Linked DNA regions of Homo sapiens: region 2 is linked to region 1. Evidence: fine-mapped expression QTL. A gene starts in region 1. The other region holds a variant in brackets. All regions are shown on one strand. Distances are between the middles of the regions.

Region 1 (17,111 bases):
CATACTACCATCAACTGATGCAAAAGAAAATCACTAGACATTCAGGCATGCTGTTTTTCTAGGTATAGTATGTATGGCTATAATTAAGGTCTGATTTTTAGCTCAACTATCAGGACAAATTGTTTAACTGTCAGGGTTGCTCAAGAATACAACATGCTGTCTTAGGCATTGTCAAAGAGAATGTTCCAACAGAGGCCAGGTGGCTGTCAGACAGAGACCCTGAGGGGTGTACCACAGTGGCCTGAACCAGAAGACATCCAAGGCCCACATTCACCTATGGCCAAGCCAGACTAGCTTCCATCTTCATAAGTAGTAACAAAAATACACATGCTCTTTCAGTTTGCAAAAGTGCAGCAGCCTGAACCAGAAGACAGCCAAGACCCACACCCACTTATGGCCAAGCCAGACTAGCTTTCATCTTCATAAGTAGTAACAAAAATACACATGCTCTTTCAGTTAGCAAAAGTGAATTTTAAAATGCTTATGATTGATAAAAATCATATATATTCAAGGTGTACAATACCTTGAATATACATATACATATATTATAATGATTTCCACAATCAAACTGATGAAAACATCAATCACCATAGTTATCATTTGTAGTACGTGTGCACGCGTGTGTGGTTGAGACACTTAAAATGTACTCATCAATTTTAAGCAGTACAGTATTACTATCATCACCAGGCTGTACATCAGATCCCCAGAACTTATTCATCTTGTAACTGCAAGTCTGTATCCTCTGACTAACATCTCTCCATTTCTTCTTCCATCCCAATTATGAAAACTTAACACAAGAATGCTCAATAGAAAAACAACAAAAAACAAAAGAAAGACCAGACACGGTGGCTCATGCATGTAATCTCAGCACTTTGGGAGGCTGAGGCAGAAGGACTGCTTGAGCCCAAGAGTTCGAGATCAGCCTGGGCAACGTGGTGAAACCCCATCCCTACCAAAAAAAAAAAAAAAAAGAAACAAAAATATCAAAGACCATTTGGATGCATCTACTTCAAAAAAAAAAAAAGTTTTAAATTTTCCTTAAAAAATATTCTAATAATCTCCAGAACTTACCATACTGAGTATAACCAGGCCCTCTGGTTTTCCATTTTGGTCTTATCATTGCAATGGGAAAATTTCTCCGAGGCATAATCAACATTCGGATGACTTTTTCAATGCCATTGATTATAAAATAGCCCCCCATTTCCTGCCAAAAAGATGAATTGCAACTTGTTAAACAAAGATACATGACTAACTGTAAACATGAACCTCACTCCTAGCCAAAGGTAGTACAACACACAGAATAGGAACACAGAGGTGAAATGTACTACTGATCCCTTGAAAACAGTACACAGACACTGTCTTTGTGTGAATTAACAGTTTTCTCAAGTATATTACAAAGGTCCTAGGGACATGGGAAAAAAGTATGGAAGAAAAACAGGGTACTTCTCTTTATCAGACAGGCTCAACCTATCTTGCCTTTCTGTCCCCTAAAATGACTTCAGTCTTCAAATAACACTAAAAAAAACTTACTCCAAAGAGGTGTTGAAAGATAAAAACTGGGCCGGGCGCGGTGGCTCACGCCTGTAATCACAGCACTTTGGGAGGCCGAGACAGGAGCATCACAAGGTCAGGAGATCAAGACCATCCTGGCTAACACGGTGAAACCCCGTCTCTACTAAAAATACAAAAAATTAGCCAGGCGTGGTAGTGGGCGCCTGTAGTCCCAGCTACTCGGGAGGCTGAGGCAGGAGAATGGCTTGAACCCAGGAGGCGGAGCTTGCAGTGAGCCAAGATTGCGCCACTGCGCTCCAACCTGGGTGAGAGAGGGAGACTCCGTCTCAAAAAAAAAAAAAAAGAAAGATAAAAACTGTAACCATTTTGCTTCCATACGAGTATGGTTTCCCAAATACGTTCAAAAACTTGATTGTATGAAAGCTCTGGAAACCAGAAATTTGGATTAGCTAAATAGAAAAATATTTTTAATAGCTCTGCTCAATATCACATTTCTGTAATAAACAGCTACTATTTACGAATTGCCTACTATGAAACAGGCATATTATAGTAGGTGCTCTATGTTATCATAACATTTAATTCTCATAACAATGAGTGGGGTAGCTATTATACCCACTTGCAGCAGAGGAAACTGAGGCTCAGGGAGATTAACTTCCCCAAACCACAAGACTGATAAGCGGAAGAGCTGTGTGTCAAACCCAGATCTGACACCAAAACCCTCTTCCCACCACATAACACCATCTACCTATTTAGTAGGCACTGTTTGTTCATCTTGATTACCTCAACTCAACTCTGCAAAGCCACCTAATATAGCTGAAAGAAATGATGAAGGGAATGCATATAAGTCATTTAATATGCGCACAGAATCTTACTGTTAGCAAAGCAGACATTTTTATTTCACTTTTTTAGTGACGGGGTCTCACTCTGTCTCCCGGGCTGGAGTGCAGTGGCACAATCATGGCTCACTGTAGTGAGGCCTCCTGGGCTCAACTGATGCTCCCGCCTCAGCCTCCCAGTTAGCTGGGACTACAGATCCATGCCACCACCATGCCCAGATAAATAGACATTTTTGACAATAGCTTTGTGGATTAAGACAGCTTGAAAAAAAAAACAAATTTTGTGGAAGTATGTCTCTATCATTCAGAAAATTAGGGAAAAACCTACCAGTTCTTCCCCCCGAACAATAATATTCTCTAATTTTACAGCCACTTTTTCATACTGTCTAATTTGATAGTTATTCAGAGCCATACACTGTATGCAGGCAAGATACTGATATCTCTTTCACCTATCCAGAAATTGGAGCACAGAAAGAAAACACTGACACACTTCTTGTCTTCTTACTCCCAACCCAGGCCTTCTCTACTGTCTCATGCCTGGACGCCCGTCATTACCTCTGCCTCCTCATGGTGCTCAATGAGGGCTTGTGGGGGAAGGTTACGTAAGTTGCAAAGCTTGGATTTCACCATGATGGGAACATAGCCAAGAAACTGCTTAATGATTCCTTTTGAGATTCCATTCACTGCCCAGTTGATATCAGCCTAAATGAAAACAAGAGAAAAAGTTACTTAACAGAAATATCTGCATTTACGAGAACAAATGAGTATTTTCAAAGACTGAGGAAGAAGATCAATTAAATTATTTTATGCCTTAGATTTAGAAGGTGGGATCTCTTAGACAATAGCACCAAGAAAGCAATTTCTGGCATAAACTTTATTAGGCACCCGCCCTACTCCCAAATATGTGCAGTGTTGAGAGTCACACAGTATCACTAGTACTCACTGTCAACTTCCCACGGTAGGTACTCCTTCGGCCCCGGCATTCTGCTGGATAAACATTGGCCTCTTTGCAGATGGTCCCTTTTGGAACTGTAGGTGGACTGATAACAGCATCCAGAATAGTAAAAGAGATACGCTCATCTTTGAAAGCAAATTCAAAGGGAGGTATAGCCTGAAATGCAATTCACACTATTAAATTGCTTGCATTTCCAAGGCATTTTTTCTCTAAGACTCTTCCAAATCTTATGTGTTCTACAAACATTGATGCCTGTGATGCCACCATGACACACCTAAAAAGGACAGTTAAGGCTACCTCCAGTTGGCCGGGCGCAGTGGTTCACGCCTGTAATCTCAGCACTTTGGGAGGCCGAGGTGGGAGGATCACAAGGTCAGGAGATCGAGACCATCCTGGCTAACACGGTGAAACCCCATCTCTACTAAAAATACAAAAAAAATTAGCCAGGCGTGGTGGTGGGCGCCTGTAGTCCCAGCTACTCGGGAGGCTGAGGCAGGAGAATGGCGTGAACCCGGGAGGCAGAGCCTGCAGTGAGCAGAGATCACGCCACTGCACTCCAGCCTGGGCGACAGAGCGAGACTCCGTCTCAAAAAAAAAAAAAAAAAAAAAAAAAAAAAAAAAAAGCTACCTCCAGTCTACTCATAACTTCACTAAATACTTAAAACCACAAAGCATTATTAGTACAAGATTGTTTTGAGTGACCACATGTGTCAGAGACTGTAGTAGGCTCTAGGGATACAGCTGTGAACAGAACAAAATTCCTGTTCTCTGAACCAAGAGCCTTGTGTATTCTTAACTTGTCTATGTGCATAGCAAGACAAATGGGACTACTGCTAATAGAGCAAGGATACGGAAACATCCTTTAGGATTTAAGACTAGATGCTTAATGTACAATGGCAACGTCAAACTGAAGCCAGAGCCATGCAAAGGAAAAGATGGTGGCCAGGCTGGGTTTCCCCTTCCACAGAAGTTACTTCTTTGTACCATTCTGTAGGGGAAGCTTTGCTGTTCTGAGGAAGGGGCATCACCAAGCTCTCCTATATATTAATTACAAGCAACCTCCTAGACTTAGTCTTAGAATAATGAAAATGAAAAAATGGAACCAAGAAAGAATACCAAGGAGGTTCTCCACCTTCACGTGAGTTAACTTACCTTTTCTAAATTTTAAAATGTTATCTAAAGCTGGTATTATTTTAGAAATTCATATTTTATTTAAAAATAAAAGCCAGATGCAGTGGCTTATACCTGTAATCCCAATATTTGGGAGACCGAGAGAGGAGGACTACTTGAGCTCAGGAGTTTGAGACCAGGCTGGGCCACATAGGGAGACCCCGTCTCTACAAAAAATAAAAATAAAAAAATTAGCCGGGCATAGTGGTGCACGCCTGTGGTCCCAGCTACTCAAGAGGTTGACGTGGGAGGATCACTTGATCCTGGAAGGTCGAGGCTGCAGTGAGCTATAACCATGCCACTGCATTCCAGCCTAGGTGACAAAGTGAGATCCTGTCTCAAAAAAAAAAACAGAATGAAGTTAAAAAAAGAGAGATTAGACAATTTGCTTTCTCAAGACGCAGCTGCACTATTTAGAAGGAAATACAGTGAACTGTCATTATTCATAATAGTTATGTTCTATACAGTTGCCATAAACACTGAATTAGCCAATACTGAACCACTGCTCCTAGGGTAAATACATGGTTAGCTTCCTGCGAGCCTCTGGTCACATTTCATCAACTGATCAACACACAATCTTGTATTATGTGTGTTTCTGTTTAAGGACAGCTTATTTAATACATATTATTGAGTCCGTAACTCATGCCTGAACAAAGCCTATGATTTCATCCACTGATCAATACACAACCTTGCATTATGTGGGTTTCTGTTTAAGGACAGCTTATCTAATATATATTATTGAGTCCCTAACGCATGCCTGAACAAAGCCTATGTTAAATGCATGTATTAATATTTTCCCCTAAAGGCACAGCACAGCCTTCTTGTGCTTAGGAACTTTATACAGAACTTTAATACTTTAATACTTTGCTTGGGGGACATTTTAAACAGCAAAATCACCAACAAAAAGCACAAAACACGGCACTAAATAGATAGTGAAGACAACCTCTGTTTATAGTTTAAGAACTTAAAACAAGAAGGCCGAGCATCACCTTGTTAGATCTCAGCTGGGAAAATGGACACTGAGCAACTCAACTTTTTTGCTGCTTCTGGGCATGGTGCTTTTGGAGTAGAAGTAAATTTTAGTGAGTAGGTGAATTTGCAAATATGGAATCCCCAAGTAATAAAAATCAATTGTATTTTGAAAAGACAGACACATAAATTCTGACTCACAGAAAGGAGGAATTCACTCCAAAGAAACTTGGCAAAATTATGTTTTGTAAGTAAAAAATATGATAACTATTTTTTCCCTTGGCTTTATAAGTATTAGTTATTTATGTTACTGTGTTTTACAGAACTTTTTCAAATACTATATTATTATAGTCCTAGCTAAGTTGTGGCATCATTTTCTATGCAGGGCCAAATTTTCTTCATCTACTTCAACCAAAACAATTATCACAAGGGACTGAATGCACAAGCAGACATGAGAATCCAGCTGTCTTTTCATTAAGCCAGACATTAAAAAGATTTTTAATAATGCAATTCATCTAACTTCTTTTTTGCTTTGGAAAATATTTTTCTTAAAAATGTTAACATATAATTGGTTTATTTATTTATGTATTTATTTTTTTGGGAGAGTCTCACTCTGTCACCCAGGCTGGAATGCAGTGGTGCAATCTTGGCTCACTGCAACCTCCGCCTCCCAGGTTCAAGCGATTCTCGTGCCTCAGCCTCCTGAGTAGCTGGGATTACAGACATGTGCCACCATGCCCGGCTAATTTTTGTATTTTTTAGTAGAGATGGGGTTTCACCAGGTTGGCCAGGCTGGTCTGGAACTCCTGACCTCAAGTGATCCACCCGCCTTGACCTCCCAAAGTGCAGGGATTACAGTCAAGAGCCACCACACCCAGCCGACTGGCTTATTTTTAAATTAGTGCTTTTCTAAAATTTCTCAATTGGATTTTTTTTTTTTAAAGACAGGTCTCACTCTGTTACCGAGGATGGAGTGCAGCGGCACAATCATAGCTCATTGCAGCCTCAAATTCCTGGGTTCAACTTATCCTCCCACCTCAGCCTCCCGAGTAGCTGGGACCAGCTACTTGGGTGCGCACCACCATGCCCCACTAATTTTTAAATTTTTGTGGAGATGGGGTTTCACTATGTTATCCAAGCTGGTCTTGAAATCCTGGGCTCAAGTCATCCTTCTGCCTTGGCCTCCCAAAGTCCTGGATTACAGGTGTGAGCCACTGCACCCAGCCCGATTAACTTTTAATTAGGAATTTTTTCTCACAGACATGATACTGTAACAATCCAGGCACAATACAAATAACCCCCACCCCTCTAGTCTTTCTAAACAATAAATCTTAATGGCTCCCATATTATTTGCCGAATAGAGTTCAAGAATCAGACTGGCAATCAAAGCTCTCCACATTATCTGTATCCCTATCTCCCACAACACAAATCTTACCCAACAAAACCACAGGTAGGGTCCCCGAAGCATGTGACTCTGCTCTACTCTTCCCCTGGACGAAATGCACGTTTCTCACTTCTTGAACTCATCTAATCCTGCCCTTTCTCAAACTCCTGGATTAGTTGCGCCGCCCATAGGCTCCCGCAGTAGCCCACACAATCCCTTGGCAGAGCAGTTCTCAAGAACATTGGCATGCACTGCTTTCATTATCTTCACCCCTTCAACCCCCAAACACGACAGGGAGCACTTAAATGCATGAACTGTCTCGTACACGGGACTGCCTCCTCCACATCCTCTGAGCCTAGTGCCTGGAGACACTGGGGATGCTTACTAAACGAAGCTTTCCCCCACCATACTCACTTGAATTCTGCTACCATTACTCTACGCTAATAATGCAATTACACTTTTCGATTCAATCTTGCTTTCATGACTCATTTATACCTTCCTCGGCACCTGCTTAATTCATAACAAATGACGAGTAGTTTCTCTCTTTAAAGCTCTAAGAGAAGGAAACTGAAGGATAACCTTGAACATTACACTGTACCTACAAATACGTTCGGGATCTTTCGAGGTACGTTTTGGAGAGGTAAGTCTTCAAGTGATATAAAGCCGTGTGCATTGTGAAGCACATCCCCAGATAAGCCACTTCCTCACTCTCACAGCACCCCGAAACTGTCCAAACTACGGTTCACAATCACTTTTCACTCCAGAATCACGAATACATCTCTTAAGACGCCTCGACTCCAAGTCTCACGAAGGCCAGTACCGCGTCCTGTTTAACATGTTGTGCTCTCCCGCTTACCCACCAAGCCTGTCAGGATCAAGGAGCACATGCATCTGGGGTCATACTGTGACCTCCCAGCCACCTCCCTGGGATTGGCCTCGCCGCGGCAAGGGCGCCGGCGGACGCCGCGCTCACCTGCACCGCGAGGCCGAGACCCTCGTGCACAGCGTAGTTGAAGGACTCCACGTGCGCCCGCGTCAGCTCCTGCAACGCTGCCTTTTGCTGTTCCCGCGGGATTCCATAAGAGGGGTCAGTCAAGTGCTTTAGGCTAGGCCCGCTGGGCAGGTTCCGCCACCGGCTGCCAGGATCCATGTGGCCACCTGCACACCGGACGCCAGTCTCTCGGTACACGCCGGACGCCAGTCTCTCGGTACACGCCGGAAGTAGTGGCCGCAGTCCCGTTTCCGCAGCCTGCTGGGAAATGTAGTTCCCTCTCGTTCCACCCGCCCTAGGCCCTGCGGTTTCGGTTTCTCGGGGTCAACGTAGAACCAAAAACGTCGAGTGAACGGGCCGATTAAGGCCGTGTCCAGCCAGAGCGTGGCGGGCCCTCCCTTTCTCCCATATTCCGCCCCACTCATCTCCCCGCTCGCGAAAGATGCCGCAGGTGGAAACCCGCTCCCCGCCCAGTTGAGCATGTGACCTCTTTGGCTCTCATTGGCTCAGTCAATTAGGATCGGAGGAGAGCGGTCTTCTCAGGCTCTCTTCTGTTTCCCTTCACCTGTTCCCAGTCCCACGCTGATGCCGACCCTGGGGAGTCATCCGGCCAAAGTCGTTGCTTCAACGAAAAAGCGGATGCCGGGCCCCGGGCTGACTCTCTACCCAACTCCTAACTCGCGAGGCTCACCCCTGGGAAGCCAAGGAGTGGTCGGGCCCCGCTAACCTCGTCGCATCTTCCGGACTGGAGGCCTGGGGGAGGCCTGGGGAAGGAGGTGGGAGAGGAGTCGGGCGGTCCCGGATGGAGGGGATGGGGCAGCGGGGCGTCCAACTGGATTTACAGCCTGAATTTCTTTTGCGTTCCTGTGAGCCCCTTACCTCCCCAGAATACTGATTAATCAGGGAATGCCTGCTGGTTTTTCAACTTTATTGTGTTTGTGTTTAACAGCTATATTGCGTTATAACTGGCATACAATAAACCACACATTTAAAGTGTACGCGTTAAGTTTTGACCTATGTATACAACCATGCAGCCATCACCACAATTAAAACAATGAATTAAACCACCACTACCCAGTATCCTCCTGCCCCTGATAGTCCCTCCTTACTGTCAACTTCCCCTTTCCTAGTTCAGCTGGTACTTTTCATTCCTATATCACTTTTTATAAAAAATTCGAGCCGGGAGTCTGTTGCACAGGCTGGTCTTGAACTTCCGGCCTCTAGTGATCCTCTCGCCTTGCCTCCCTAAATGCTGGGATTACAGGCATGAGCCACCGCGCGCGCCCGGCCAACTGAGTAGTTGTAGTTCTTTATATAGCCTATACTAGTCCTTGTCAGATCCATGATTTGCAAATATTTTTCTCCCATTCTGTGGGTTTTTACTTTCTTGCTGGTGTCCTTTGAAGCAAAACGTTTTAATTTTGAAGTGTAGTTTTTTTCTTTTGTTGCCTGTCTTTTTATATCATATCTAAGACATCATTGTGTAATCCAAGGTCATGAGGATTTAAAAAAAAATTTATGGGTACATAATTAGCATATTTATGAGGTATATGAGATGTTTTCATATAGGCATACGATGTAATCATCACAGGAGGGTAGATGGGGTTTCCATCACCTCAAGCATTCATCATTTCTGTCATGAACATTCCAATTGTACTTCCTCAGTTATTTTTGAAGGTACAACAAATTATTGCTGACTGCAGTCACCCTGTTGTGCTATCAAATACTAGATATTTTTCAATCATGGGGATTTTCACCTATATTTTCTACTAAGAGTTTTGTAGTTTCAACTCTTACATTTAAGTCTTTGACTCATTCTGAGCTAATTTTTGTATATGGTGTGAGAAAGGCATATCACTTTATTCCTTTGCATGTGGATATCCAGTTGTCCTAACACCATTTGTTAAAAAGACTATTCTTTCCCTCATCAAATTGTCTTGGCCTCCTTGTCGAAAATCAGTTCACTATAGATGCAAGGGTTTATTTTTGACTCTCAGTTCTATTCTCTTGATCTGTATGTCTATCTACATTTATCTGTATATCTGTCTACAAACTACACAGATTTGATTAATACAGCTTTGTAATAAATTTTGAAATCAGGAAGTGCACATCCTCCAACTTTGTTCTTCTTTCTCCAGATTTATTTGATCCTTTGTATTTCAATATGGATTTTAGCGTCAGCTTAGCTTGTCAATTTCTTTCTCTTTTTTTTTTTTTTTTGTTTTTTGTTTTTTTGAGACAGAGTTTTGCTCTTGTTGCTGAGGATGGAGTGCAGTGGCATGATCTTGGCTCACTGCAACCTCTACCTCCTGCCTCAGCCTCCCAAATAGCTGAGATTACAGGCATGCACCACCATGCCTGGCTAATTTTGTATTTTTAATAGAGACAGGGTTTTACCATGTTGGCCAAGCTGGTCTTGAATTCCTGACCTCAAGTAATCCATCTGCCTTGGCCGCCCAAAGTGCTGGGATTACAGGTGTGAGCCACCACACCCGGCCCAGCTTGTCAATTTCTGCAAAGAAGGCTGAGATTCTTGATCAGGATTGTGTTCAATTGGTAGATCAATTTGGGGCCTATTTTCATCCTAACAATAATTATCTCCCAATCCATAAACATGGGATGTCTTTCCATTTATTTAGGTGTTCTTTAATTTCTTTCAGAGATGTTTTGTAGTATTTGGTGTAGAAATGAACTTTTGTTAAATTTATTCCTAAGTATTTCATTCTTTTTGGTGTTGATATAAATGGAATTGTTTTCTTAACTTCAAATTGTTTGTAATATGTAGAAATACCATTGAGTTTTGTATATTGATCTTGTGTCTGGCAATCTTGCTAAACTCTTTATTAGTTCTAACAGCGTAAGTGGATTTCTTAGGACTTTTTCTATATGGTATCTTGTCGTCTGCAAAGAGAGATCATCATACTTCTCCCTTTCCAATCTGAATGCGCAGTCTTCTTTCCTTCCTTTTGTCGAATTGCTCTGTCTAGAACATTTAATACAATGTTGAAGTGACAAGAATAAATATACTTGTTTTGTGCCTGATATTGGGAAGAAAGCTCCCAACTGGAGCTTTCACATCACCATTAATATGATGTAGGCTGTGGGTTTTTCCAAAGATGCTCTTTATCATGTTGAGGAAGTAATTTATTTCTAGTTTGTTGAAAGGTTTTTTCCAAGAAAGAGTGTTGTGTATTGCCAAATGCTTTTTCAGTGTATATTGAAATGATCATGTGCTTTTTGTCCTCTTTTTTCTATTAAAGTGGTATATTATATTAAGTAAATTTTGTATGTTAAAAAAACCTTGCATTCTTTCTTTTCCCCTTCTCAACGTTTATTTTAGAATCAGGGGGGTACATGTGCGAATTTGTTACAAAGGTATATTGGGTGATGCTGAGGTCTGGGGTATGGTTGAACCTGTCACCCAGGTAGCGAGCACAGTATCCAATAGGTAGTTTTCAATCTTTGCTCCCCTCCTTCTCTCCTGGCTCTAGTAGTCCCCAGTGTCTGCTGTTCCCATCTTTTTTTTTTTTTTTTTTTTTTTTAGACAGAGTCTCTGTCACCCAGGCTGGAGTGCAGTGGCGCAATCTCGGCTCACTGCAACCTCCGCCTTCCAGGTTCAAGTGATTCCCCTGCTTCAGCCTCCTGAGTAGCTGGGATTACAGGCGCCTGCTACCACGCCCGGCTAATTTTTTGTATTTTTAGTGGAGACGGGGTTTCACCATATTAGCCAGGATGGTCTTGATCTCCGGACCTCATGATCCGCCCGCCTTGGCCTCCCAAAGTGCTGGGATGACAGGCGTGAGCCACCGCGACTGGCCTCTTCCCAACTTTATGTCCATGTGTACCCAATGTTTAGCTCCCACTTTTTAATTTTTTTGAGACAGGACTTGCTCTGTCACCTAGGACAGAGAGCAGTTGTGCGATCTCTGCTCACTGCAACCTCCTCTTCTCAGGTTCAAGCGATTCTTGTGCCTCAGCCATCAGAGTAGCTGGGATTACAGGCATGCACCACCATGCCTGGCTAATTCTTGTATTTTTTATAGAGACCAGATTTAATCATGTTGCCCAGGCTGGACTCAAACTCCTGGCCTCATTTGATCTGCCCACCTTGGCCTCCTAAAAGTGCTGAGATTATAGGAGTGAGCCACCGTGCTCAGCCTAGCTTCCACTTACAAGAGAACATGAGTTATTCCAAACTTTGTAATCTTAGGATAAGTCCCACTTAGTCATAATGTATAATCCTTTTTCTATGTTGCTGGATTTGGTTTACTAGTATTTTGTTGAAGATTTTTTCCGTTTGTATTCCCAAGAGATTATTGGTCTGCTATTTGCTTTTCTTGTGACATCTTTGTCTGGTTTTGGTATCAGGGTATTAAGAGTGACCTCATAAAGTTGAGGACACTCTTCTCAATTGAGGAGTATTTTCTTCTCTTCTATTTTTTAGGAGACTCTATGAAATATTGGTGTTAATTCCTTACCATCTGGCTTACAATCTGGTCCTGGGCTTTTCCCTGTGGGAAGTTTTAAAAGAATTATTATTAGTCCAACCTCTTTACTTGTATATTTCTTCATTAATACAGAAATTAACAAAATTTGTTACTGATTTCTGATTTTATTCCAACATGGTCAGAGAACATATGTAGTATAATTTCAATTCTTTTAAATTTACTGAGACTTGTTTTATGGCCTAGCATGTGATCTACCCCAGAGAATGTTCCATGTGCACTTGAGAAGGATGTGTATTTTGCTGCTGTTGGGTGGAGTGCCTTGTAGATATTTGTCAAGTCTAGTTGGTTTATAGTGTTTTCTATTTTCTTGTTGATCTTCTGCCTAGTTGCTCTAGCTATTATTGAAATGGAGTTTTGAGGGTTCCAACTATTGTAGTTAAATTGTCTGTTTCTTCCTTCAATTCTCTAAGTTTTTATGTCATGTATCTTTAGGCTGTATTGCTAGGTACATATGTTTATAATTGTCATATTTTCCTAATGGACTGACCCTTTTATCAATATAAAATGTCCTTGGCATACAAGTGGCCAAGAAACATATGAGACAATGTTCATCATCACTAATCAACAGAGAAATGGAAATCACAACCACAATAAGATATCATCTCACGCCAGTCAGAATAGCTATATTAAAAAGTCAAAAAATAACAGATGCTGAAGAGGCTAAGGAAAAAAAGAGAATGCTTATACACTGCTGGCAGGAATGTAAATTGGTTGAACCACTGTGGAAAGAAGTTTGGAGATTTCTCAAAGAATTTAAAACAGAGCAGCTGGGCATGGTGGCTCATGCCTGTAATCCCAGCACTTTGGGAGGCTGAGGCAGGTCGATCACCTGAGGTCAGGAGTTCAAGACCAGCCTAGCCAACATGGTGAAACCCTGTCTCTGCTAAAAATACAGAAATTAGCTGGGCATGGCGGCACACGCCTGTAGTCCCAGCTACTTGGGAGGCTGAGGCAGGAGAATCGCTTAAACCCAGGAGGCGGAGGTTGCAGTGAGCACAGATCACACCACTGCACTCCAGCCTGGGTGACAGAGAGAGACTCCACCAAACAAACAAACAAACAAACAAAAACAGAGCTACCATTCAACATAGCCTCCCATTACTGGGTATATATCCAAAAGAAAACAATTCATTCTACCAGAAAGACACATGCACCTATATGTTTATCACAGTGCTATTCACAAGAGCAAAGACATGGAATCAACCTAGGTGCCCATCAACAGTGGATTGGATAAAGAAAATATAGTACATATATACCATGGAATACTATGCAGCCATAAAAAAGAATGAAATCATGTCCTTTGCAGTAACATGGATGCTGCTGGAGGCCATTATCCTAAGTGAAATAACACAGGAACAGAAAACCAAATATTGCACAGTCTCATAAGTGGGAGCCAAACATTAGATACACATGGACACAAAAATGGCAACAAGAGACACTAAAGATGACAAGAGGGAGAAGGGAGGGAGGGGTGCAAGGATTGGAAAGCTAACCATTAGGTACTATGCTTACTACTTGGGTAATGGGATCTGTACCCCAACCTCAGGACCCATGTAACAAACCTGTGTATGTACCTCCAGAATTTAAAATAAAAGTTGGAACTATTAAAAAAAAGTCCTTCTTTGTCTATAGAAACAATTTTTTTCTTAAAGTTTATGTTGTCTAACATTAGTATAGCTACTCCACTTCTCTTTGAGTTACTGTTTGCATGGTATATCTTTTTCCATCATTTTACTTTCAACCTGTTTGTGTTTTTGAATCTAAAGTGTGTTTTGCCAGGTGCATTGGCTGATGCCTGTAATCCCAGCTGCTTAGGGGAGACTGAGGCAGGAGGATTGCCTGAGGACGGGAGTTCAAGACCAGCTTGGGAAACACAGTACGACCCTATCTCTAAAAAAAAAAAAATTTTTTTTGGAGAGATATCTGCACTCCCATGTTTACTGCAGCCTTGTTTGCAATAGCCAAGATTTGGAAGCGACCTAAGTGTCCATCAGCAGATGAATGGATAAAGAAAATATATTGCTTATACACAATGGAGTACTGTTCAGCCATAAAGAGTGAGATCCTGTCACTTCCAACAACATGGATGGAACTGAAGATCGTTATGTGAAGTGAAATTAGCCAGGTAAGTTTTGAAGTAAGCCAGGTCCTATCTCTAAAAAAATTGTTTTAAATTAGCCAAGTATGGTGGCAGGCACCTATAGTTCCAGCTACTTGGGTGGCTAAGGTGGGAAGATTACTTGAAACCAGAAGTTTGAGGCTGCAGTGAGCTATCATTACACCACTAGACTCCAACCTAGGCAACAGAGCAAGACTCTGTCTCTAAATAATAAAAATAAAAATAAAATGAAGTGTGTTTTTTGTAGATAGCATATAGTTGGATCATGATTTTTAAAAAAAATCAATTTGCCAATCTCTACCTTCTGATTGGAGTATTTAATTCATTTGCATTTAATGAAATTACTGATAAGGCAGGATTTATCTACCATTTTACTGTTGGTTTCTTTAGGCCTCTTGCCTTTTTTTTCTCCTCTATTTTTCATTACTTCCTTCTCTTTTCTTATATATTTTCTAGTGTAACATTTCTGTTTCCTTGTCATTTTTTACTATATATTTAAAATTATTTACTTAGTGGCTGGTGTGTCTTGAGGTGGACTCTTTGAGTCTTTCCTGCTTAGAATTTGTTGAGCTTCTTGGATTCACTTTAATGTTTTTCCTCAAAGTGGGAAAGGTTTTGGCCACTATTTCTTCCAGTATATGTTTTATCCCCTTCCCTCTCTCTCACTTATCTATTCTAGGACTCCTATTATGTGTATGTTGGTATGTTTGATGGTGTCTGACGGGTGTCTGAAGCACTGATCATTTTTCTTTGCTGATTTTTTTTTTCTGTTCCACAGACTGGATAATCTCAAATGACTTCTAATTTGCTGATTACTTCTTTTACCAGTTCACACATTTTTTAAACTTCTCAAGTAAATCTTTCATTTGCATTTTTGTACTTTGCAACTCTAAAATTTCTACTTGGTTCTATTTTATAAACTAACTTTCTTTCCTTTTTTCTTTTCTTTCTTCTTTCTCTTTTTTCTTTCTCAATCTTTCTCTTTTCTTCCCTCCCTCCTTTCCCTCCCTCCCTCCCTTTCTCCTTCTTTCTGCCTGCCTTTCTTTCCTTTCTCTTTCTTCCTCTCTCTTTCTCCCCTTCCTACCTTTCCTCCCTCCCTCTTTCCCTCCTTCTGCCTCTGTCCTCTCTGTTTGTGCAGACACTTAAGGTCAGACGAAAGAGCTGGGGAATTCTCAGGTCTCTTCTGGGCATGTGCACAGTCCTACACATGTGTGTGGCCTTCTGCATTCTTAGGAATAGGTTGAAGCTTTTCAAAACGTCCTATAGAAATCTCATTCCCAGTTTTTCCTTCTAAGTCTTTTGGTCAGTTTGTTTGTTCCAACTGTTACAGCCACCTTAGGAAGCTGAGATGTTCAACAATTGCTGTTGATTTTTTTTGACAAATGCACCCAGGGAAAAGGTTGTTCACACTGGGTAACCTCTTAGTCACATCAAATAAAGACAAGACCTAGGAGTAGGGACTTACATGGAACTACCAAAAAGGCCAAATGGCAATTCTCTGGTAATGAAGCTTTGGAGGAGTTCCAATCCCCTTCTGAGCCCTACGGTGGCTGCTCTGCTGCTGGATGTCAGCATGATTGTGTGGCCGAGGCTGTTGTGGAGCTGGGGAAAGGGGGAGTGGGAATAGGGTACATTAAAATGTCAGAAAGCTTGCTTTTCTTACCCAGATGCAACCCTTTCCTTTTTTTTTTTTTTTTTTTTTTGAGACAGAGTCTCGCACTGTCACCCAGGCTGGATGGAGTGCAGTGGCGTGATCTCGGCTCACTGCAAGCTCTGCCTCCTAGGTTCACGCCATTCTCCTGCCTCAGCCTCCCAAGTAGCTGGGACTACAGGCACCTGCCACCGCGCCCGGCTAATTTTTTGTATTTTTAGTAGAGATGGGGTTTCACTGTGTTAGCCAGGATGGTCTCCATCTCCTGACCTCGTGATCGCCCGCCTTGGCCTCCCGAAGTGCTGGGATTACAGGCCTTTTCTTGAATAAATGGATTGCTGCAAGCCTCTGGTTAATGTCTAGACAGTTTTGCTAGTGTTCTCATTGCTTTTATGGAAGAGAGGGTTTTCAGAGGTTGTTACTCTATTATGCCCACTGATGTCCTCTCATAATTTTTGAAAGGAATTATGCTTGCAACAATCTTCAAGTTCTGCTACTATGTATTGCATTGGAGAGGGGTTCATTTTCCTTTGCCTTCAGGGACTGCTATGGTTTGAATGTGTTCCCCAAAGTAAATGTGTTGGAAACTTAATCTCTACTGCAATAGTGTTGAGAGGTGGGACCTGTAAGAGGTTAGGTCACGAGAGCTCTACCCTCATGAATAAATTAATGATGTTATGCCAGGAGTGGGTTAGTTATCACAGGAATGGGTTGCTAGTTAAAGGGTGAGTTAGACTCCATTCCTCTCTTGCCATGTGATGCCTTCTGCCATGCTGAGGCAGCAAGAAGGCCCTCACCAGATATAGCCCCTTGATATTGGACTTCTCATCCTCCAGAACCGTGAGCCACATACACTTCTCTGTAACATTCTGTTATGGCAATACAAAATAGACTAAGATATGGAGGGATGCTTTGGGGAAAACACTTCTAAAATATGGGTTATGGGAGAACTTCAGGTTAAGAAGGAGGTGTAGCTACTGACAGGAAGTGGGACCAGTCTTTAAGAGAAGTCTTCC
Region 2 (14,450 bases), 28 kb before region 1:
ATAGATGCACAGCACCATGCCTGGCTTCCAAAATGGATGAATCTTATTTCACTATGCTAAGTGAAATAAGCCAGTCACAGGACAAATATTGCATGATCCCACTATATGAGATATCTGTAATAGTCAAACTCATAGAAACAGGGTAGAAGGGTGGTTGCTAGGGGCCAGGGAAATGGAGAGTTGTTCAACAGGTATAAAGCTTCAGTTATGCAAGACAAGTAAGGTCTAAAGATCTGTTGTACAACATGGTGCCTGGAATTAACAATACTATATCGTGCACTTAAAGATTTGTTAAGAGGGTAGGTCTTGAGTTAAGTGTTCTTACCACAGAAGACAAAACAAAAACTCAACAGCAACCAAAAAGCAAAAAACAAAGGGGCAGGAGGAAACTTGTGGAGATGACAGGTATGTTTATTACCCTGATTGTGGTGATGGTATCAAAGGTGTGTGCATATAGTCAGACCCATCAAATTGTATTCATTAAATATGTAACAACTGTACTTCTATAAAGCTGGTAAAAAACACTGTACCTGTTTGTTTTTACTTCAACGTGGCTATAAGAAAATATAAAATTACATTACAGCTTGCATTCTATTTGTATAGTACTGTCCTGCTCAAGATGGATTAACAGGTGTGTGACACTCACTGCCTGCTGAGAGCAGGGTGTAGGGAACCTGGGGTTGGAAAGGAGACTTGTCACCGTATGCTCTTCCATTTATCAATATTTCATATTTTGAGAAGACATGAACTTTTTGAACAAAGATAACAGAAAATCATTGTCAATAGTTAATCTACCAGAGAGATTCAGAAACCTTGCATACTTGGTTTTCAGGTCTTGGTTGAGAGTTCTAACACCGTTGAAAAATCTCAAGAGTAACCTGGTAATGATATCTTCATTGAATTAAAATTACATTTTGCTTTAATCTGATAGTCCTCTTAATCCAAAAGGTCAACATCAAGTTAAACAACATCCAGTTTCACTTTGATGTTCATAGCTGCCAGTTCAGCTACAAAATACCGAAAAACATAAGGCACAGAAACAGTATCGATAGTGTCACTGCGACTACACAGAGTACAGTTGTATTTTCTGTTGCGCATGGCAGACCAAGAAGGGGGTGGCTTCTCCAACAGTGGAGAGAGTAAACTGCCACACTTCACACACACATGGGCTACCGACCGATCTGAGCAGTTGAAGAGGCGGTCATGAAGGAGAAAAGATGTACCATGAGCTAAAAGCGCATCCCGTTCCATCTCCCCAAAACGGATTCCACCCTGGACATTTCTTCCCCCAATAGGCTGGTTGGTGACTCTGTCTCGGGCTCCAGTTGTCCTTACTTGAAATTTGTCTGAGACCATATGGCGTAAGCGCTGATAATAAACCACTCCTATGAAGATGTCTGCTTCCAGTTCTAGCCCACTGATGCCACTATATAACCTCTCGGTGCCATAGAAATTGTAGCCAGCAGCCTTTAACATCTCACCAAAGTATTCTAAGGCCGAGTTCTCCTCTGAGAAGATGAAGGGTGTAGCATCATGGCAGAGACCATGCAAAGCTGCAGACTTCCCGGCCATACTCTCAATTAACATCCCAATGGTCATGCGGGATGGAAAACCATGGGGATTGAACAGAATGTCTGGGACCATCCCACTCTCAGTAAAAGGCATGTCCTCAGCCGGCCACAATCTGCTTAAAATGCCCTTCTGCCCATGGCGACTGGCAAATTTATCTCCGATAGTTGGGTTCCGAGGCACTCTCATAGTGATGCAAACACACTTGAATTTTCCACTCCCAGTGTCATTACTGCACACTTTGATGTTATCCACAACACAATTTTCTTTACTCCTAGGAAAAAGTAAACCATATAAGGTCAACCTATTTGTTTTAACTTATGGAGATAAGTTTCATTGATATAATTAGTGCTTCATAAAGGATATTTGTAAAACTTTTTTTTTTTTTTTTTTTTTTATGATACAGGGTCTCACTCTGTTGCCCAGGCTGGAGTGCGGTGGTGCAATTACAGCTCACTGCAGCCTTGACTTTCCGGGTTCAAGCAATCCTCCCACCTCAGCCTCCTGAGTAGCTGGGACTACAGGTATATGCCACTAGGCCTGGCTAGTCTTTAAATTTTTTTTGTAGAGATAGGGCCCCACTACATTGCCCAGACTGATCATGAACTCCTGTGCTTAAGGAATCCTCCTGTTTTGGTCTCCCAAAGTGTTGGGATTGCAGGTGTGAACTACTGTGCCTGGCCTGCAAAACTCATTCTTACCTTTATTCTCCAATACAAACAGAGATGGTATGAATAGAGCTATTGGTGATATTCACTACAGAATTATGTTCATCTGAAAGAAAACTAGCAACAAAAGCAACTGAAAAATTATTATGAAAGCCTATTGAAATAAATTATATTGTAAAATAAGCTAAAATAAGACATTTCTAATAAGAGGTATGAGCTCAACATTTTGGCTAGGAAACATTGCTAACATTGTATGTGAGAAAGATGACAAAGTTTGGATAATACAGTTTTTAAAAAAAGCACAAATAGGCCAGGGATGGTGGCTCAGGCCTGTAATCCTAGCACTTTGGGAGGCTGAAGCAGGTGGATCACTTGAGCCCAGGAGTTCGAGACCTACCTGGGCAACATGGTGAAACCGTCTATACTAAAAATACAAAAAATTAGCTGGGCATGGTGGTCCATGCCTGGAGTCCCAGCTACTCAAAGGCTGAGGCGAGAGGATTGCTTGAGCCCGGGAGGTGGTGGTTGTAGTGAGCTGAGATCACTCCACTGCACTCCAGCCCGGCTGACACACTGAGACCCTGTCTCAAAACAAAAACAAAAACAAAAACAAAACAGCTTGGATACCCAAACTTACTTATAGTACATCACAAAACTTTCCCCGGTGTTGAGGTTGAGGTAGCTGTAATACGGATCTCCGTACTGCAGTTTTGCTCCTATAAACGGCAATCCATCGTCATCTAACTTCTGCAGAACGCGTGGGTCACCAGGTTTGATGCCAAACACCAGGCTACTATCTCCTTGTTTAATTTTTTCAGAGAGGTCTATGAACTCAGACTTGTAGACACTTCCATGGGCAAAGCCTCGTTCCCAAGAGGCCTTATTCACAATCTGTGAAGTAAAAGAATCGTTAAAAGACTGAGGCCAATTGAGGATTTTCAAAATAAAACTAGGTGGGACTATCATACTTGGTTTAGGATAACTGGCATCACATTTTAACTTTCCTCACATTTTCCAAATCACTGATACTAACTACAAAAACCCAGACATGGCTGGGCACGGTGGCTCACGCCTGTAATTCCAGCACTTTGGGAGGCCAAGGCAGGTGGATCACTTGAGGTCAGGAGTTCGAGACCAGCCTGGCCAACATGGTGAAACCCCATCTCTACTAAAAACACGAAAATTAGCCAGGCATGGTGATGGGTGCCTGTAGTCCCAGCTATTCGAGAGGCTGAGGCAGGAGAACTGCTTGAACCCAGAAGGTGGAGGTTGCAGTGAGCCAAGATCGTGCCACTGCACTCCAGCCTGGGCAACAGAGCGAGACTCCGTCTCAAAAATAAAAAACAAAAAACAAACAAACAAAAAACAAGAAAAACAAAAACCCAGGCACACAGAAATAGCTTAAAATCTAATCATACTTAAATATAAAAGGTAGATAGATCCAAAACCAAACTTCAAAATTTACTCATAATATGCACTCAAATATGCAAGACATACGTGTATCTGAATATTTAGTGGATATTCCTCAAGGCTTGCCCACTTTCAACTTAGACTAAGAACTAATCATTTAATAGAACATCACGTGCCAAATACTAGGTACTTGGGTACACAAAAATATTCCTTCAGTGATTTCACAGTAAACAAACAAGTTAAAAAATAAAAAGATTGGAACAACATTTCCTGGTAAAACTTACCATGGCATCTTCCATATCATAGCCAGTGTAAGAAATCACAGCAACGATGGCATTGGTCCCAATTGGATAGTTATCCATGTCATAATAATCATACATGGAGGGTCTCACCAAGGGACTCTGAGGAGTCTGAAGACGATACAGTTTGTTATCCGATCGGTCTTGATAAGTGAGAAGTGGAAAGCCCATAGTTTGCTTACCTACATGGAGAAAAAACATCTTAGCATTTTCTGCTGCTTTCATCTTGATTATAGGTGTGATACGCAACACTGGAAACAACTAAATATCCATCAGAGGAAAATGAACAAATAAATAGTCATGGTAGTTATGCTTACTTTAGACTAATACATAAGCTGTGAAAATGAAGTAAACCTAAATGTATCAACGTGACCAGACCAGGAAAACCATGCTGAGTGGGAGAAAGTGCAGACTGACATTTAATATGATACGATTTATGTGTATTTGCAACACACCCCAAACAATTCTATACTTAGTTTATGGATACATGTATGATGTAATAAAAGCTTTAGAAGGGGACAGAAAGGAAGTACGCAAATTACAGGCTATCACTACTCGGGGAAGAAAAGGGGATAGGAATTATTACGTAATTAGATTACTTTCTTACAGCGGAATATGTATTTAATTCTAAGTAGTGGAGCATGGGGTGAGATTCCTCTGTGTACTACCTCACAGTACAGAGAATCATTTCAC[G/A]ACAAAATGATTTTAAAATATAAATACATACAAGTGAAATTTTTAAAAAAATTATAGACTTAGAGCTTCCAGTAATAAAGGGCTACTCTTACTAGACCACCCTCAACACATAAGTATGAGACGCAGACCCCCAACTACACATACAGCACTGGAGAGTAACCAAAAGCTGTCAGAAGCTGAGAAGAATTTTTACTTGGACAAAAGGAACACACTGGGTGAATTTCCAGGTTTTTAAGTATTTATGTATTTATTTTTGCCTTATGGCCCAGTGTGGCAGCTACAACTTAGATAGAAACCCACAATCTTACTGGCTTGAAGAACCAAGAAATAGAGTTCTGAGCATGACAACAATTGGGAAGGGGGAACATTTCAGAAATGAGAGAACCACAAAGGGAGACCCTTAAATTCAGCATATAAATTGGGTCCGAATCTTTGGTGGACTCCTGAACTATGCATGCATGGGACAGATCACAGCAGCCCACCTAAGGCTGAAGAATGTACTTCAACTGCCACGTTCACCAAGTTAAGTACCAGTGAAAACTAAAAACCAATCCTCTTCCCCTGGAGAATTTTTGGTGACATGCACTGAACCAGGTGATGGACTGTGTATTAAGAAGGAAAGACATAAAATGAAAAAAATTAAAATGTAATTGAAGGCCAAACACCACACTAAAAACAAACAAAACCAATCCTCTTCAGAGGACCCTAACAGGATCCAGGGTTTAAAACATACTCCTCGCAATGTTCATAATACAATCCGATATTACTGGGCATACAAAGAAATGGTGAAACTTGACTTATACTCAAAGAGACTGATACTAAGATGACCCAGACATTGGAATCTGCAGATAATGATTTTACAACACCCATCATATAAAACTATGTTCAAAATATAAAGGAAAACATGCCCACAATGAATGAAGATAAGAAATCTTAGAGAAGAAAGAAACTATAAAAAAAGAAACAAGTCAGGCCAGGCGCAATGGCTCATGCCTGTAATCCCAGCACTTTGGGAGGCTGAGGCAGGCAGATCATTTGAGGTCAGGAGTTTGAGACCAGCCTGGCCAACATGATAAAACCCTGCCTCTACTAAAAATACAAAAAATTAGCTGGGCATGGTGGCACATGCCTGTAATCTCAGCTACTCAGGAGGTAGAGGCAGGAAAATTGCTTGAACTGGGGAGGCAGAGGTTGCAGTGAGCCAAGATCGTGCCACTGCACTCCAGCCTGGGTGACAGAGCGATACCCTGTCTCAAAAAAAAAAAAAAGAAAAAAAAAAGAAACAAGTAGAAGTGCTGGACTTGAAAAATACAGGCATGCACTGCATAACAATGTTTTAGTCAATGCAGGATGGCATATATACTATGGTGATCCCATATTTTTACTGTACCTTTTCTATGTTTAGCTACACAAATCCTTGCCATTGTCTTACAACTGTAGACAGTACACAGTACAGTTACATGCCACCCAGGTTTGTAGCCTAGGAGCAACAGGCTATACCATATACTAGGTGTGTAGTAGTCTCTGCCATCTAGGTTTGTGTAAGTTCACTCTATGATGTTCACACTACGACAAAATCACATATGACTCACTTCTTCGAAGGTATCCCTGTCGTTAAGGGCACATGACTGTAAGCAAAAATTCAGTAGAAGACAGAATAAAAAGTGACTGTGATAATAGGTCAATAAAAATAATCCAATCTGGGCCAGGTGCAGTGGCTCACACCTGTAACCCCAGCATTTTGGGAGGCTGAGGCAGGCAGATCACTTCAGGTCAGGAGTTTGAGACCAGCCAGGCCAACATGGTGAAACCGTATCTCTACTAAAACACAAAAATTAGCTGGGCATGGTGGTGTGTGCCTGTAATCCCAGCTCCTCAGGAGGCTGAGGCAGGAGAATTTATTGAACATGGGAGGCAGAGGTTGCAGTGAGCCGAGATTGTACCACTGCACTCCAGTCTGGGCAACAAAGTGAGACTCCATCTCGGGAAAAAAAAAAAAAGATCCAATCTGAAGAAAATAAAGAAAAAAGAGAACAGAAACTCAATGTCTTATGGAACAATATCAAAAGGTTTAAATATATGAATAACTGATAGAAGAGGAGGAAAGAGAGAAAAGGATAGGAGCAATGTTTTTAAAAATAATGACAGAAGAGTTTAGCAATTTAATTAAACTGAAAAAAAACAAAATTTGAGGCCGGGCGCAGTGGCTCACGCCTGTAATACAGCACTTTGGGAGGCCAAAGTGGGCAGGTCACCTGAGGTCAGGAGTTCGAGACCAGCCTTGCCAACATGGTGAAACCCCGTCTCTACTAAAAATACAAAAATTAGCTGGGTGTGGTGGTGAGTCCCTGTAGACCCAGCTACTTGGAAGGCTGAAGCAGGAGAATCACTTGAACCCAGGAGACAGAGGTTGCAGTAAGCCGAGATCACACCACTGCACTCCAGCCTAGGCGACAGAGCGAGACTCTGTCTCAAAAAAAAAAAAAAAGAAACACACTATATTCAGAAGACTGCTGCCTTCTAACTAGAAATGACAGAGACTAAGAAGAGACAGTGTAACAACAACTTTTAAGTGTTGGAAGAAAAATAACTGTCAACTCAGAATTGTATATCCAGTGAAAGATTCCTTCAAGTGAAGCAAAATAAAGACATTTTCAGATAAATGAAAACAAAGAGAATTTGTGGCCAGCAACCTGCACTATAAAAAAATGCTAAAGGAAGATTATCAGGCTGAAGGAAAATTGTATACAATGAAAACTTGAATCTTGCAGCAGGAATGAAGAGGACTGGAAGTGATAAATATGCGGGTGACTATAATTGCTTGTATTCTTCAAAAAATCAAATAATAAGACCTCAGGCACACCCAAATCTATGGACATTCTATACCTTTTTCTTCAAAAATGTCAATGTCAAAGACAAAGAATGTTTAAAGATCTGTCATAAATTACAGGAAACTAAATAGACATGCCAACTAAATACAATGAGTGATCCTGGGCTGGTTGCTTGTGGCACAGAAAAAAGAAAAACTTGCCATAAACTGTATTTTTGGAACAAATGGTCAGCATATGTAAATAAGGACAATAAAAGAGTGTGCTAGTATCAAGTTTACTTTCCTGATTGTGACTGTAACATCATCCCTCTTCCTTACCCATCTGGCATTGGTACATGTTCCGTGGACTCTGGTTGTGATCAGAGAAAGGGATGAAGTTGGCAATCACACTCAGCAGGCTGTGTGGAAAGAGTTCCTGGTGTGTGGTAACTCCAGCAAAAACTTCATCCTCAAAGATAGCGACATTCATGAAGATCTGGAAGAGCAGATGTCCAAGGCACAAAATAACTGCAACTGGTTACACATTTACTCTTACCATTTCTCAGAGTTCAGTACTCAAAGACTCAAGAGAAAACCATCCCCACCCAGCATCATGAGTGCTGAAGGGATCAACTGGGAAGCACAGGGAAGCGACCAGTTAGAAATACCACTTGCTTTACGTATCTCACTCTAAAACTACCCCAGACCAATTGTGAAGGGGAATAGGAAGAAAAATTTTTAAGTAGCACAAAGCCTATAATTTTGCAACTGTAAATATGTAGGCAAAGACTGAGTGTGAATCTAATGGAATGTTTTCACTTCACGGCTGAGGCAGAGCCAGGTACAAAGGAGTTCTGGGAGCTAGATAAGATGGGAGGCAGGTAATGTGACCACCAGCCCTCTCTCAGGTTCTGTGGAGTGAGATCAGACATGGAAATTGCTCTGTGCTGATCATAGAGGAGGTGGAAAGTCTGACTTTCTTTCAAATGTCCAACTGTTGTTGTAACATTAACAACCCTTTTAAAAAAGGAAGAGTTAAGTCTCTGAAAGTTGTATACTATACAAACAAGCACATACACTCATCCATCACACATATGTATTTACCTGTTCCATAGTTCCAATTAGCTCTTCTTTGCCCAATGCTAAGTTCTGCACAGGCCGTACCAGTCTACAAGGAGTGGTAAAAAGGAACAATCCTGGGTACAGACTTGGTTTTCCTGTCATGGGTATAAGGACCACTTCCATCCAGGGAGGAATTCTTTTCTCTCTCAACACCTGTTTTTAACAAAAACAGAGTTTAACAAACCTGTCCCAAGGCCATGGCTGTCGCTGCCAGTCTTATGCCCCATGGAATACCACTCATCCACACTCAGCCATGGTAAAAGCCCTACTTCCTTGGGTGCTCACCCCAGCTAGTAGGCAAATCACTAACTACTGAGGCTAAGGATAAAGCACACCATGAATGCACGTGTCGATACACTAAAGGAAATTCTGTCCTCTGTGATCTAAAATACAGTAGATTACTGGTTTTATTTGTAAATTTAATAAACCAAAAACTCATGGGTGGGCCGGGGGTGGCTTATACCTGTAATCCCAGCACTTTAGGAGGCCAAAGTGGGTGGATCACTTGAGCCCAGAGGTTCAAGACCAGCCTGGGCAACATGATGAAACCCCGTCTCTACAAAAATTAAAAAATTACCTGAGTGTGGTGGTACGTGCCTGTAGTCCCAGCTAATCGGGAGGCTGAGGTGGGAGGATCACTTGAGCCCAGGAGGTTGAGGCTGCAGTGAGCCATGATCATGCCACTGCACTCCAGCCTGGGTGACAGAGTGACCCTGTCTCAAAAACAAAACAAAAAAACTCCAACAAACTCCTGGGTGAAAGGAGAAATAAAAACCTAAATTACAGAAACCTGAAAACAACAACAACAACAACAACAACAACAAACCCATGTGTCAGAACTCATGGGGATTCACAGCTAGATGCATTATCATTAAAAATGAGAGAATGTTTGGTGGAGGGGGACACGGGGAGATGTTGGTCAAAGAGTATAAAGCTTCAGTTATGCAACAAAATTAAGTTTCTGGAGATCTCATGTACAGCATGTGACTATAGTTAAGAATACTATATTGCATGCTTGAAATTTACTAAGAGAGCAGATCTTAAGTGTCCTCATCCTCCGATGCTCCACAATGCTAACCAAAAAAAAGAGAATGAAAATAAATTCTCTATAAAAAAGATAAAATCTGAGACTAATGAGGCAGGTAGCTCATTTGAGGTCAGGAGTTCGAGACCAGCCGGGGCAACATGGAGAAACCCCATCTCTACTAAAAATATAAAAATTACCCAGGCATGGTGGTGTGCACCTGTAATCCCAGCTACTTGGGAGACCGAGGCAGGAGAATTGCTTGAACATGGGAGGCGGAGGCTGCAGTGAGCCAAGATCACACCACTGCACTGCAGCCTGGGCGACAGAGCGAGACTCTGCCTCAAAAAAAAAAAAAAAGAGGAATGATTGTTTAATGGTTACAGAGTTTCAATTTGTGATGATGAGAAAGTTCTGAAGATGGTGATGACTCCACAACATGAATGTACTTAAAACCCTCAACTGTACACTAGATCAAATCTCATACACTTTCTGAGCATCAAAATAAGTAGTAACAGAATATTCACAAAATTAAACAAGCATCTATAAATCTACGCTAACATAAATAAATGAACAACTAATAGAAAAGAAAGCCCTCCCTTACAGAATAGCAACTAATAAACATAGAAAAAATGCTGGTGGGGGAAAACACCATGTGGTAACCATCACAGTAATATTAACTCAGCAAAGAACCACCAATGGAATAGTAATTCAGCTAATAATCCATCAACTAGTGGGTGAAAATATGAAGAAAGAGGGCTCCACATAGCTTTCAACTATCTCTCCACAAGTTACTTATTACAGAGAAAAACAGAAACTGTACAGTGAATTAACCTAAAGAACACAACTTTGAAGGGATCAGTTAACATGAGTCGTAACAGGACAAACCAACGTCATGTGCTTCCTGAAATATCTTGAATCTCATCATGAGGAAGCAAAACATAAACCTAAATTACAGGAGAGCTGTGATTCCCAGCACTTCGGGAGGCCAAGGCGGGTGGATCAGTTAAGGTCAGGAGACCAGACTGACCCAAATGGTGAAACCCCACCTCTACTAAAAATAAAAAAAATTAGCCGGGCGTGGTGGTACACACCTGTAGTCTCAGCTACTCAGGAGGCTGAGGCACAAGACTCTGACTCAAAAAAATAAAAATAAAAGACTGGTGGTTGGCAGCATCTAGGTGGCTTCAGGATGGGGCTGGTCACCAGAAAGACCAAGCCAGGATTAGAGGATTGGGACTTTCACCCCCACCCTCAACCTCCAGGAAGGGGATAGGGGCTGGAGGTTAAGCTAATCCCCAGTGGCCAATGATTCCATCAGTCATCCTATGTAATAAAGCCTCCATAACAACCCAAAGGACTGGGTCAGGGTAGCCGGGCACAGTGGTACAGTCCTGTGGTCAGGCTGCTTGGCAAGCTGAGGTGGGAGGATCACTTAAGCCTGGGACACTAAGGCTGCAGTGAGCTGTGATTGTGCCACTGCACCCCAGCCTGGGCAACAGAGTGAGACCCGTCTCTCTAAAAAAAAAAAGAAAAGAAAAGAAAAAAAAGAGAGCATTACTGAGACAGCTGGTGGAATCTGAGTATCAACTATGGATCCCACCCACATGACCTTCTCTGATTTTCATAAATGTACTGTGGTTATTGAAGAGAAAGTCCTTGTTCTTAGAAAAAGTACACTAAAATCTTTATGGAAAATGAGACAATGTCTCAATACTGCTCTCAAATGGTTCAAAAGAAAAAAATTGAGTATACAGAAGATAAAGGATGTAGGGCAAAGCATAGCAACTGGTGGATTTGGGTAATGTGTATACAGGGGGGTCCCATGTACTGATTAAACATCTTTGCTCTAAGTGTAAAATTATATCAAATGAGCCACAATTCCACTTATAGGAATATAAGAATTAAAGAATTAAAAGCACAAGGACTTAAATAGATATTTGTACACTCATGTTCATAGCAGCATTATTTGCAATGACCAAAAGGTAGAAACAACCCAAGTGTCCGAAACAGCACTTAAACGAAAACTAAAATTTAGTTTAAACATTTTTTAAAAATAAAAACACAGAACAGAATATAAACCACAAACAGCCTGTTGCCAAAGGATAATTCTTTCAATGGCCATTATCAAAGCAACAAATACTCTTCACTAGGAGGAAATCCCAAAGGTAAGTTATTCAAAGAATGTCATTCTACTTTTTAAAAATATATTTTCAAAACCTAGGAGGCAATGGGGTATAACTTCTACCTTGCATATTTTGAATATTACTGAAATATCTGTATTTTGAGATCCCTTCTATGCCACTAGTATTAAGAAGGGGGAAAAAAGTTAAAATTAGTTAGATAAGCAGACTGAGGTGCCTCAATGAAACTGCCAAAGAATGTATATGGGTCAAATATCTGTCACTGACCCCAACCAATGAGGCCAGTATAAGGCAAGCCTCTGTCACCAGAGGGAATGCACAGGCATTCTGGACATTGTGACCCCCTGACCACTTGATCACTCTAGACCGCCCAGGGGTTAACCCCAAAACTAGAAAGGAACTGAAAAACCTAAGGTCAAGGGATAGGACAATTCACAAAGCCTCAAGCCCACCTTAAAATGACGAAGAGAATCTGCGATGCCTGGAGCAAGATCCTTATCCACCCAGCCAACCATGACACCGTCCAGCAGGACAGGGTAGCACTCACTGTATGATCGGTGGGGAGCTCCATCAATGGGAGTGACCCCTGGTAAAGGAAACAAACAGCACAATCACATCAGAATGCTTCATCCAACATTCCAGATTCCCTCCAGATGGGGTCAACAGCTGCTGTATCAGTTCAGATATCAAATTATCCTTGTCTCTAAAACAGGTACAGGCATTATTTCTTTTAACTGCACTTCAGATATTTCAAGCAGGCTTATCAATGCCATTTTTCCAACGACAAGTGTTCCCTTTGTGTCTCTGTGCTGGCATTTTGGTAATTCTTGCAATATTTCAAATATTATTATTATTATATCTGTTATGGTGATCTGTGATTAGTGATCTCTGATGTTACTACTGGACTTGTAGATGTGGTAGAAATAGCAAGACCACTAGAATTAGAAGTAGAGCCTGAAGCTATGAGTGAATTGCTGCAATCCCATAATCAGACTGAATGGATGAGGAATTGCTTCTTAGAGGATGAGCAAAAAAAATGGGTTTGTTTTATTTTTGAGACAGGGTCTTGCTCTGTCGCTCAGGCTGCAGTGCAGTGGCATGATCATGGCTCACTGCAACCTCAACCTCCCAGATTCAAGCAGTCCTCCCACCTCAGCCTCCCGAGTAGCTGACAGGTGCGTGCCATCATGCTTGGCTAATTTTTAAATTTTTTTTTTGTAGAGACAGGGTCTCCCTGTGTTGCCTAGGCTGGTCTCGAACTCCTGGGCTCAAGCAATCCTCTCGCCTTGGCCTCCCAAAGTGCTGGAATTACAGGCCTAAGCCACTGTGCCCAGCAGAAATGGTTTCTTGAGATGGGATCTCAAGAAATGAGAAGATGCTGTAAACATTGTTGAAATGACAATAAAGGATTTAGATTATTTCATAAACTTAGTTGATAAAACAGCGGCAGGGTTTGAGGGGACTGACTGCAACTTGGAAATAATCTCCTCTGTGGGTAAAATGCTATCAAACAGCATCACATGCTACAGAGAAATCTTTTGTGAAAGGAAGATGCAATTGGTGTCGCAAACTTGTTTTATTTTAAGAAATTGTCACAGGCCAGGCGTGGTGGCTCACGCCTGTAATCCCAGCACTTTGGGAGGCAGAGGCGGGCAGATCACGAGGTCAGGAGATCGAGACCATCCTGGCTAACACGGTGAAACCCCGTCTCTATAAAAAATACAAAAAAATTAGCCGGGCGTGGTGGCGGGCGCCTGTAGTCCCAGCTACTCGGGAGGCTGAGGCAGGAGAATGGCGTGAACCCGGGAGGCAGAGCTTACAGTGAGCCGAGATCACGCCACTGCACTCCAGCCTGGGTGACAGAGCAAGACTCCATTTCAAAAAAAAAAAGAAAAAAAAAAAAGAAAGAAATTGTCACAAGCTGGCCGGGTGCAGTCACTCACACCTGTAATCCCAGCACTTTGGGAGGCCGAGGCAGGCAGATCACCTGAGGTCGAGAGTTCGACACCAACCTGACCAACATGGAAAAACCCCGTCGCTACTAAAAATACAAAAAAAATTATCCGGGCATGATGGTGCATGCCTGTGGTCCCGGCTACTCGCAAGGCTGAGGCAGGAGAATCACTTGAACCTGGGAGGTGGAGGTTGCGGTGAGCCGAGATCGCGCCACTGCACTCCAGCCTGGGCAAGAGCGAAACTCCGTCGCAAAAAAAAAAAAAAAAAGAAAAAAAAGAAATTGTCACAAGCCATCCTAACCTTCAGCAACCACCGCCCAGATCAGTCAGCAGCCAGCAACACTGAGGCAAGACCTTCCACCAGCAAAAAGATTACAACTTACTGAAGGGTCAGATGATTTAATATTTTTTAGCAATAAAGTATTCTTAAAATTGAAATATTTACAGCATAGTGTAAACATAACTTTCATATGCACTGTGGGAAACCGAGAAATTCATGTGGCTCACTTTATTGCAGCGCTCTGGAACCAAACCTGCAATATCTCCGGGGTAAGCCTGAAGGCTTTTGTATTGCTTGTGGAAGTTTAAATTGCTTCAGCAAGGACACACAGGAAAGAAGTAGCAAGGGGACAGGGGCCTATGGGAGGGAGCATTTCACTGTATGTCTTAATATTTTTATTTCTAAGCCACCTAAATGCATTAAATGCATTAACCCCCAAAATGTAATTACAGTTAATCCTCATTATGTGCACATTTG

The links. PIP is the estimated chance that this variant, and not a neighbour inherited with it, causes the effect.
Region 2: its variant is fine-mapped to the expression of POLR1B in whole blood (TOPMed, PIP 0.93).

The regions. Positions count from the first base shown.
Region 1 is chr2:112,533,360-112,550,470 of GRCh38, reverse strand. It overlaps POLR1B (RNA polymerase I subunit B), which reads right to left and starts at 8,006. Exons shown (of 15, transcript NM_019014.6): 1 at 7,800-8,006; 2 at 3,292-3,459; 3 at 2,904-3,050; 4 at 1,072-1,204. The coding sequence starts at 7,976. It overlaps TTL (tubulin tyrosine ligase), which reads right to left. Exons shown (of 7, transcript NM_153712.5): 7 at 8,732-17,111. LOC105373562 (a long non-coding RNA gene) reads left to right here and starts at 8,259. Exons shown (of 2, transcript NR_136321.1): 1 at 8,259-8,268; 2 at 8,393-8,815. RefSeq lists an enhancer at 7,974-8,123.
Region 2 is chr2:112,562,240-112,576,689 of GRCh38, reverse strand. It overlaps POLR1B (RNA polymerase I subunit B), which reads right to left. Exons shown (of 15, transcript NM_019014.6): 10 at 12,191-12,324; 11 at 8,553-8,723; 12 at 7,788-7,944; 13 at 3,932-4,128; 14 at 2,875-3,128; 15 at 1-1,843. The coding sequence ends at 961. Among named protein-coding and RNA genes, the nearest start is that of CHCHD5, 15 kb to the left of the region's middle. The variant G/A (reference allele first, on the strand shown) is at 4,640.